3 linked regions of the Homo sapiens genome follow. The protein of the gene in region 1 interacts with the protein of each later gene in a pairwise test. Each region holds a gene or a part of one and is shown in the gene's direction. Other genes may lie near its edges.

Region 1 (3,735 bases):
TAGGCCCCCAGTTCAGCAGCGGGTAATAGAGGAGAATGGGTCAGGTCTCAGTTTTAGTTTTCCTTGTGCTTCTTATTTTCAAATTCACCTGCATTCAACCACATAAGTGTTTTTAAAGTAATCTTAGTAGTCCCTTTGAAATTATGTGTGCAGTAATTGTTGGAAGAAAGAAGTTTTGGGTTTGAATTACCGCTGTGTCAGCTTTAGCTCAGTGCTTTTTCTCTGTACTGCCCTGGAGCCAGGATGGAAGGGAGATGCTTTCCTGTCCAGACTGAAGAGTTACAGGGAGGAAGGAAGCTGTCTGCTGACAACAAATTCCCCATAAGATTTCTTTACATAGCAGGCTCCTTTACTCCCATCTGTACTTTAAATATCTATTTGAATTGTAGAGTTAGCCTTGGCCCCCCCACATTCAGGGTCTTGCCTCTTGCAGAAAGGCAAGTATAGTGTTTAGGAGTGAAGTGAAGCCAAGTGAGTGCTATGGTGCAGGCTGTGACTCTTCTCTCTCCTTTGAAGGAATTTACAAGCTCAGGCTCAGCCAACACTGAGACCACCAAAGTGACGGGCAGTCTGGAAACCAAGTACAGATGGACTGAGTACGGCCTGACGTTTACAGAGAAATGGAATACCGACAATACACTAGGCACCGAGATTACTGTGGAAGATCAGGTAATGGCTGCTGTGAAAAGATGTGGATTTATTAATTCGCATCTGCCAGCCTGCCTTGTGACTAAATCTAGTGGCAAATTTCTTTTCTGTTCAGCTTGCACGTGGACTGAAGCTGACCTTCGATTCATCCTTCTCACCTAACACTGGGTAAGAGTTTCATCTGTTTTCTCCACAAGGATGTTCTCTGATGTTGCAGGTGGTGGAAGCCCTTTGTGACAAAATGTTTTGGGGGCTGACAGCACCTAAAATATGGTCTCCGAGACCTGGCGATTTAAGTCCTCTGGTTTTGATTTGGTCCCAGGGGTCGTATCCACATCTATGCACTAACAGACTATGCTATAATGAGCACTTCCTAATTCAGGACTGGTGTTTACCCAACAAACGATTTCTAAGTGCCACCTGTGCTTGGCCCTGTGCCCATCTGGAGATCTAAGGGTGCCCAGGCCATGATTGTTACCCGCCAAGGAGCTCACTTTCTAATAGAGGATTCAGACCAGTGTTTAGCCGTGTTTTGTAATAAGATTCTGCATTTTGTTAGTGTTCTCCTAGTTTCTGCCATGGAGGTTGCAGGATTTCTGTTCAGTAATAGCCATTTCATGTGAGTTAGGCTGCTGGTGATGTAAGTGGCTATGACCAAACGGGAGTGGGTGACATTTGGAAGCAGGGCCTAACTGGTCACTGTTGCCAGCCTCATTTCTTCAGGCATGGAAGTCCTTCTCCCAGCTTCCTGCTGCTTAGGGACACTGAGACCCTGTGGGTGTAACTGCAAGGTGGCTCCTGAGGCTGCACTTTCCCCAGGCCTTCTGGCCACAGATGTAATAGGCTTGTTAGTTCTTGACCATCACTTGGCATGATAGCATGGTAGTCTGCCTCAATTCCTGGGTGCTTTTCAAAGTGCCTAGAAGGAATTATTCCCTTTTAGAATACACCCTTGTTTTTTTCCACTCATATTGGTGGGTCTTCCAAACCTGGGGAAGATGTTTTATATAGTGATGTTAGGGTCAAGGGCATGTACTGAATTTCAGTTTTTAAAAATTGTGGGCCGGGCGTGGTGGCTCACGCCTGTAATCCCAACACTTTGGGAGGCTGAGGCAGGCAAATCACCTGAGGTCGGAAGTTTGAGACCAGCCTGACCAACGTGGAGAAACCCTGTCTCTACTAAACATAAAAATTAGCTGCGCCTGGTGGGCGCATGCCTGTAATCCCAGCTACTTGGGAGGCTGAGGCAGGAGAATCGCTTGAACCTGGGAGGCAGAGGTTGTGGTGAGCCAAGGTGGTGCCATTGCACTGCACCCTGGGCAAGAAGAGCGAAACTCCATCTCAAAAGAAAAAAAAAAAAAAGAGTCGGATGCAGTGACTCATGCCTGTGATCCCAGCACTTTGGGAGGCTGAGGTGGGTGGATTGCTTGAGGTCAGGAGTTTGAGACCAGCCTGGGCAACATGGCAAAACCCCATCTCTAATAAAAATACAAAAATTAGCCAGGCATGATGGTGCGTGCCTGTAGTCCCAGATACTTGGGATGCTGAGGCATGAGAATCGCTTGAACCCAGGAGACAGAGGTTGCAGTGAGCTGAGATCGCACCACTGCACTCCAGCCTGGGCTACAGAGAGAGACTCTGTCTCCAAAAAAAAAAAAAAATTGTGGTAAGATATACATATAAAACTTAACATCTTTAAGTGTGTAGTTAAATGGCACTATGAATTTTTCAGTTTTGCCATTCATTTTTTTTCTTTCTTCCTTTTTTCCTTTCCAACAGATATTTATTAGAGGGAGGATCTACCAAGTGCAGACCTGTGCTGGGTGTGCAGTGCACACAAGTGACTGGGCACACATGGTTCCTATCCTCTGGAGATGTCGTCTTATAGCTTGGCTATAGATGATCTGAAGAGACCATTGTTACGGGGCTGATTTACTCTCATTCCTCTTCGCTGCTGTAGTTTCTCCTGCAAGAGCACTGCCTTTTTGCAGTGCTGTGCACTCTCCCCCCAGGAACTCTGCCATGGTATCAGGGAGCGGTTATCTGGAAAGATCCTGGGATAGGATGAGAGGCTGGAGGATGTGCCCACATGCTTGAATTTGCTGCCTGGGACTTTGCCTGCTGCCCTGGGATAGCACACTTTGGAATTTGTAGGTGATTTCCTTCCCATGACCTTAGGGAGCTTTGCAGAGGTCTCCAGGCCATGCAGTATAAAACACAAAGGAAAGTTTTTTGGTTTTTTTTTTTTTTGGGTTGAGGGGGACGGAGTCTTGCTCTGTCGCCCAGGCTGGAGTGCAGTGGTGTGATCTCAGCTCACTGCAACCTCCTCCTCCCGGGTTCAAGTGATCCTTTTGCCTCAGCCTCCCAAGTAGCTGGGACTACAGACACGGGCCACCATGCCTGGCTAATTTTTGTATTTTTAGTGGAGACGGGGGTTTCACCGTATTGGCCAGGCTGGTCTTGAACTTCTGACCTCGTGATCCACCTGCCTCGGCCTCCCAAAGTGCTGGGCAGATTCATGTGTTTCTCCTGCCTCAGCCTCCCGAGTAGCCGGGATTACAGGAATGCACCACCACACCCAGCTAATTTTGTATTTTTAATAGAGACAGGGTCTCTCCATGTTGGTCAGGCTGGTCTTGAACTCCTGACCTTGGGTGATCTGCCCACCTCAGCCTCCCAAAGTGCCGGGTTTACAGGCGTGAGCCACTGCACCTGCCCCCCTTTTTTTTTTAATTTACTTTTTATTTCAAAATAATTTTATACTTAGAAAAAAATGTGGCAAAAATAGTATGCAGAGTTCTCCTGTGTTCTTCACCCAGCTCCTAATGTTAATGGTTTACGTAACTATAATGATCAGAATCAGCAAGTTAATGTTGATATCATATAGTTAATTAATCTGTTGTCACAATGACGTCTTTTTTCTGATCTGTGATCCAGTTCAGGTTCCTAAATTGCATCTAATTGTTAAGTCTTCTCTAATCTGGAATATTTTCTGACTCTGACACTTTTGAAAAAGAGTGGCCAATTATTTTGTTAAGATGTCCCTCAGTTTGGATTTGTCTGATGCTTCCTTATGATTAAATTTAG
Region 2 (2,489 bases), on another chromosome or scaffold:
ATGGGTGCAGAGACAGGGACTGAGCCGAGCCTGGATGGGTGCCCTCCCCCACCCCCACTCCCGTCTCCTCCAGGTCATTCAAATGGGGTGAATCGGACCCGCTGCCTTACGTGGTGTATGGCCACACAGTGCTCTCCCACATGGACCTTGTCTACGTAATTGGCGGCAAAGGCAGTGACAGGTGAGGCTGGGCCTGGAGTGAGTCTGTGGAGCAGAGGTAGAATCTCCCAGAGGCTGTCAGGGGTTTGTCCTGGCTGCCCCGGCAGGTGATTGCAGGGAGGCGTGGCTGGGCTCCTGCTTCTCTCCACCCATCCCCACCCTCCACCCCACAGGAAGTGCCTGAACAAGATGTGCGTCTATGACCCCAAGAAGTTTGAGTGGAAGGAGCTGGCACCCATGCAGACCGCCCGCTCACTCTTTGGGGCCACTGTCCATGATGGCCGCATTATCGTGGCAGCTGGGGTCACCGACACAGGGCTGACCAGTTCTGCCGAAGTGTACAGCATCACAGACAACAAGTATGAAAGCTTGTCCCTTCCGCCAAGGACAACTGCATGGCTTTGGGCTTCTGTCAGCCCCAGCAGGAGCTGCAGTCCCTGTCTTGGGTCTCCAGTGTTGACTTTGGACATCAGTATAGAAATAGGCTTTCTCTCCTGATCAGCAGTGAGGTGGGGAGGCGGGGCAAGGGTTATGGCCAGCCTGGTCTGCAGGAGGGGGCTCCCAGGGCTGGGGGAGGGGATGCCAGGTTCCTCATTCAGGGACTCATACCAGGCAATGGCCTGGTGCAAGGGATATAGCAGTGAACAAGACAGAAGCTGCCCTGCCTGGGACATCAGAAAAGAGAAAACTGAACTGAGAGACAGTTGGACTCAGCTCGCAAAAGGGGTGAGGGTGGTGGGAGGAGGTTGCCCCAGACTAAGGAAAGGTGGTGCTGAGGCAGTTTGGAGAAAAAACTCAAGGCCTATAGGAGGGAAGGTGTTGCTCCAGCTGGGTGGAGGTGGGTGGGTGATGGAGTTGGGATGGCGGTGCTGGGGCTGGAGCGGGGGCCAGCAGGAGAGGGACTGTATCTCATCTGTGTTCTACTAAAGTACTTCATGGCAACTGATATAGAGAGCAGATTAGGGATTTCCCAGGGGTCAGGAAGGTCAGGGGTGATAAAGGCCTGGAGCTGGGGGCACAGCGGAGATGGGGTTGAGGGGATGCACCGGACAAAGACAGGCCAGGGCTTCTTACACTGTGATGGGCATGCAAATCTCCTGGGGATCGCCTTAAAGTGCAGATTCTGATTCTCGGTATGCGGAGGGCTGAAAGCCTGTAAGTCTGCATTTCTAACGCACCCCCAGGAGATGCTGACGCTGCTGGGCCATGAACCACACTTTGAGTAGCAAGAGTCTAGGAGGTGGGAGAAACAGGGCTTAGCTATTGATTGGATGTGGGGGTGAGAGGGGGAGAAGTACATGCTTCTGAGTGAGGGTGGGAGGCCATTTACTGGATAATCATTGGGATTGGGTAGGGAAAGTGAGGGTCCAGTTAGGACATGTGGACTTGAAGTACCTGGGGGTGTCCAAAAGGACCCCACCCGGGAGAGAGAGGGCTGAGCTGGAGGGAGAGATCTGGGGGTCAGTAGCACACGGAGGGGCCAAGCTCCCTCAGGAGAGAGAGTGTAAATGGGAGGAGCTGAGGTCCAAGCCCTGATGGTGGAGGCAGCTGCATTATCCAGGAAGGAGGCCACGAAGGTGAGGCCGAAGAGATGGGTGAGGAAAGTCACGTCAGCAGGGCTGTGTGCTGTAGGACCTCAGTGCGTGTGCAGTGACTGTGGACCTCAGGAAGGTCAGTTTTGGAGGATGGGACTAAGGCCCAAGGCAGGAGCCAGGGTAGCGAAGATACATTGAGAACAACTGGGCTGTGAAGGGAGAAGAAGGATAGAGCAGGTGTGCAAGGTGGGTGGGGCTGCAGGGGCCGCTGAGGGGCAAAAGGACTGCGTCCAGGGCAAGGCTGGGGGCCTGCTAGGGGCTGGGGTTGTGAGTTGGAGGGTGGAGTTAGTTCAGGAGAGGAGTAGGGGCAGTGGGGAGATCCATGGTGGACTTTGCTGGACAGGTTGGATAGAATGGCAAGAGGACAAGGAAAGGAAAGTGGAGGAGCAAGAGAATGGGGAAGGAAGGGAAGACCAGAGGGACAGGGAAGGGGAATGGGGTTGGGGGCATGGGTGCCTGGGACTTGGATTGCAAAGGGTTGCAGTTGGAGCTGTGGGTGCTGGGTGGCAGGGACAGTCACTGGGCTTGCCGAGGCATCCCAATGATGCACCTTCTCACACACCCCCAGGTGGGCACCCTTCGAGGCCTTCCCACAGGAGCGTAGCTCACTCAGCCTGGTCAGCCTGGTGGGTACCCTCTATGCCATTGGTGGCTTTGCCACACTGGAGACGGAGTCTGGAGAGCTGGTTCCCACAGAGCTCAATGACATCTGGAGGTGAGTCCCACCCTGGGGAG
Region 3 (3,500 bases), on another chromosome or scaffold:
GAACCCTATTTTTGGTAGTTGAGAATGCCGCACATATGTAAAAGAGAACAGGCTGTTAAAGCAGGAACAGAGTTGGAGGAGCTGGGTGATGTAGATTAATATTTGGGCCTAGAATAGCAAGGTAAATTGGCCATGGGAGTAAAGCCGTTTTCATAGAGCTTTGTCAACTCTCTCCTACTTGGGGAGCTCTAGTTCCTGAAGACCCTTTAGTTAGAGTCTTAAGAAAAGTAGCTAGGTCAAATGAAAAAGATTTTTTTTCCTTAAAGTATTTGCATTGGGTGTTTTTGGAGACCTGTCTTCCTAACAGTCCAAGTTAAAATCTAATTGTACTTGGCTGGGGCTAGAGATTGGAAGTAGCTTTTAAGGTCAGATACCACTTTAAAATTTATTTGTATAATTCACTTCAGTGAAAAAATAAGCTCTCAGCAATTAGTAGCCAACCTAGATATGTTCTTTTGAATACAGGCTCCTTATAAATAAGCACCTCCTGTACAAGGCTTAATTTTAAATAGTTGCCCTGAGATTCCTTTCTTAAATTTGAGTTTTGAGTCTCTTCCATTAGGGAAGCTACTACGTCTTCCCCAGTTTTTATTATAGCAACTGAAATTATGGAAGGAGTTTTATTTTGTGAAACAGAGGTCAAAAATGTTTGCTGGATTCTTCTCTCATATATTTTTTTTCCCCAGTCTTCAGGATGTGCTTATGCAGGATTCCAGGTTATATCTCATCTTTGAGTTTCTTTCCATGGATCTGAAGAAATACTTGGATTCTATCCCTCCTGGTCAGTACATGGATTCTTCACTTGTTAAGGTAAAAGCTTAACTAATTTTATTAATATTTATGCACTGTGGATATAAAGGGACTATATATAGAAGTCCCTGCATTTTGTGGGAATATGCTTGGAAAAAGTGTTAGAATAAGAAAAAGTATTTCATTTTTCTCCCTCATGGTTAGTTTATACAGGTTAGAGATACCCATGTTATTACCAGATAGTGTTTCTAGTAAGTAAAAATTAGTGCCTGAGATAACATAGAACTGGTAGGTATTGTTGGAAGCTAGGGTAGTCTGGTCTTTCTTTGGCTGTCAGATACATGTAAAACAAAGTAATGAAAGCCTAGGGCAGAGTGGTGGTTGTAGGTGTTTTATTCCAGTTTTGAACATGTTTTGGTCAATTTATTGTAGACATTTATTATATTTCAGGTAAATTATAAAATTGTATAGTTTTAAGTACTGAAGTATATAAAAGTGTCTTATTCTTGCACCAGTTCTACCAAACCACTCTGCAGAGGTAGCGCTGTTAGTTTTATTTGTAATCTTACACTTGTATGTATGTTCACTTTGTATGTATATAAAGATTTTTTTTTTTACACAAGGTGGACTTATTTGCATATGTATATATACATATTTTCCCTTTTTTGTGTAAAACATTATCAAGACGTAGATCTACCTATGTCTATTTACATTTTTGATATAATTAAACCACTTCCATATTGATGAACATTTAAATTATTTTCCAACTTGGTTATTGTTGCTCTTATTAACAGTACTGCACTGAATGTCCTTATAGATATTTATCTTCGTATGCAACTTTATAGGATAAATTTTTAGAATGGGAATGATGGATTGAAGATGTTTATTTACATTTTGATAGATATTGCCGGTTGCCCCCTAAAAAACTTGTAGCAATTTACTCTTAAATACTCATGGTGTGTAATACTTATTGTTTTAGTACATCATTGCCAAAACTTGGTTTTATCAATCTGTTAACTATGTGAAAAAGGCATATTAAGATTGTTTTAATTTTATATTTCATGACAATTTAACACTTCATATTTAGCTATTATAAACCGCCTATATTTTCGTTAGGATACGTTCTTTAACAATCTTGCATGACTTTTGGACTTTCTGCTTTTATGTCTTGCTTAAGTCTTCCTCACTCAAAGATCGAATGTATTAGAATAATACATGTCAGTATTTTTCTGGTAGTTTTAGTAAGTCCTGTCTTCCACACATACTTTTTTTGTCTTAAATTCTGTATTAAGATTTATTTTGACTTAAAAACTGGGATACAGATTCTGCTTTATCTTTTTCCAAATGGCTAGCCAGTTGTTCTAACTGGTTTTATGTACAGGCAACAATGGTTTTACTTACAATTTTTCAGTTTTACAATGAAGCAGAAATGATGCACATTCACTAGAAACCATACTTCATTTACCCATACAACCATTCTGTTTTTTCACTTTCAGTACAGTATTCAATAAATAATGAGGTATTCAACACTTCCAACTATATGCTAATGTAAGTGTTTTGAGCACAATTAAGGTGGGCTACGCTTAGCTACGTTTGGTAGGTTAGGTGTGTTCAATGCATTTCGACAAGGTATTTTCAGCTTAGAATGAGTTTAACCAGATGGATCATCCGTTTTGTTTTGTTTTTTGAACACCACTTGTCCCTCTAAGATGGAGCATCTGTATTACTTTCCAATTTCAAACTGTAAGTCATTTTTCTGTGTACTTTGTTTTTGTAATATCCATGCTACTTCAGATGTCAATGACATTGTCTTTGGCAACAAATGTCTTGTAAAGCACTTTTCTCTGAACTAAGCAGCATTTTATGATAATTTTATCCATTGAAATATATAATCATAATATCTTTGCCATCACTTTTAGAATCTAATTTTTTCAAGAAGGAAATGAATATGTAAAAATGAAAGATAGAAAAGGCCAACTGTATTGAAGATACAAAATAGAGTTGGTAGCGGTATATAGAAGAAAAATCAAGAGGCTTCTGTGTAGAAAACCAATTTGTAATTTAAGGATCGGGGACCAAAAATGTTTAAAGACTAAATGTGTTCACATTACTATAGATATGTCTATAAGGTGAAGATTCTTTTCTTAGGTATACAAATGTGATGTTGTATATAAATGGGCTTCCCACCCACAAATGCTTATTAGCCTAAAATGGCCTGAAAGCTCTAGTAATTAAATTATTTCTCTGCGTCCTAATTTTTTGTCTTTGAAACAGATTATTTAGAAAATCATGTACTTCGCTTAAGTTTCTAACTTTTACTTGCTTTTTCCAGAGTTATTTATACCAAATCCTACAGGGGATTGTGTTTTGTCACTCTAGAAGAGTTCTTCACAGAGACTTAAAACCTCAAAATCTCTTGATTGATGACAAAGGAACAATTAAACTGGCTGATTTTGGCCTTGCCAGAGCTTTTGGAATACCTATCAGAGTATATACACATGAGGCAAGTGGAATAGTGGTTTTTGATGGCTTTTGAATGTGTGTGATTGCTAGATTATTTTCTGTATTTGTGAAAGTCAAGAAATAACTCAATAAAAGATATCTACTCTGTGGCAGTATCAATTTATTGCCTCTCAGCTCCAAATTCATTGCATGCTATGTGAAAATGGAACTGAAGCCTTTAAGTATTTTTTCTTTACCAGCTGCTATGTTGTTAAGGTAGAGGGTACTAGAGGGACATGGCAGGAGGA

The links.
Region 2: the proteins of VDAC1 (region 1) and KLHL40 interact in a two-hybrid assay, tested with the Homo sapiens proteins (one large-scale study listed by BioGRID).
Region 3: the proteins of VDAC1 (region 1) and CDK1 interact in binary tests that used the Homo sapiens proteins (3 or more experiments, as listed by UniProt).

Annotation. Positions count from the first base shown.
Region 1 is NC_000005.10:133,987,936-133,991,670, reverse strand, and holds part of VDAC1 (non-selective voltage-gated ion channel VDAC1), read left to right. Parts: intron 1-516; coding exon 517-669; intron 670-763; coding exon 764-816; intron 817-2,427; coding exon of another isoform or gene 2,428-2,536; exon of another isoform or gene 2,537-3,735. UniProt on the Homo sapiens protein: Non-selective voltage-gated ion channel that mediates the transport of anions and cations through the mitochondrion outer membrane and plasma membrane.
Region 2 is NC_000003.12:42,688,537-42,691,025, forward strand, and holds part of KLHL40 (kelch-like protein 40), read left to right. Parts: intron 1-73; coding exon 74-181; intron 182-332; coding exon 333-518; intron 519-2,322; coding exon 2,323-2,469; intron 2,470-2,489. UniProt on the Homo sapiens protein: Substrate-specific adapter of a BCR (BTB-CUL3-RBX1) E3 ubiquitin ligase complex that acts as a key regulator of skeletal muscle development.
Region 3 is NC_000010.11:60,784,978-60,788,477, forward strand, and holds part of CDK1 (cyclin-dependent kinase 1), read left to right. Parts: intron 1-686; coding exon 687-810; coding exon of another isoform or gene 811-822; exon of another isoform or gene 823-2,092; intron 2,093-3,082; coding exon 3,083-3,253; intron 3,254-3,500. UniProt on the Homo sapiens protein: Plays a key role in the control of the eukaryotic cell cycle by modulating the centrosome cycle as well as mitotic onset; promotes G2-M transition via association with multiple interphase cyclins.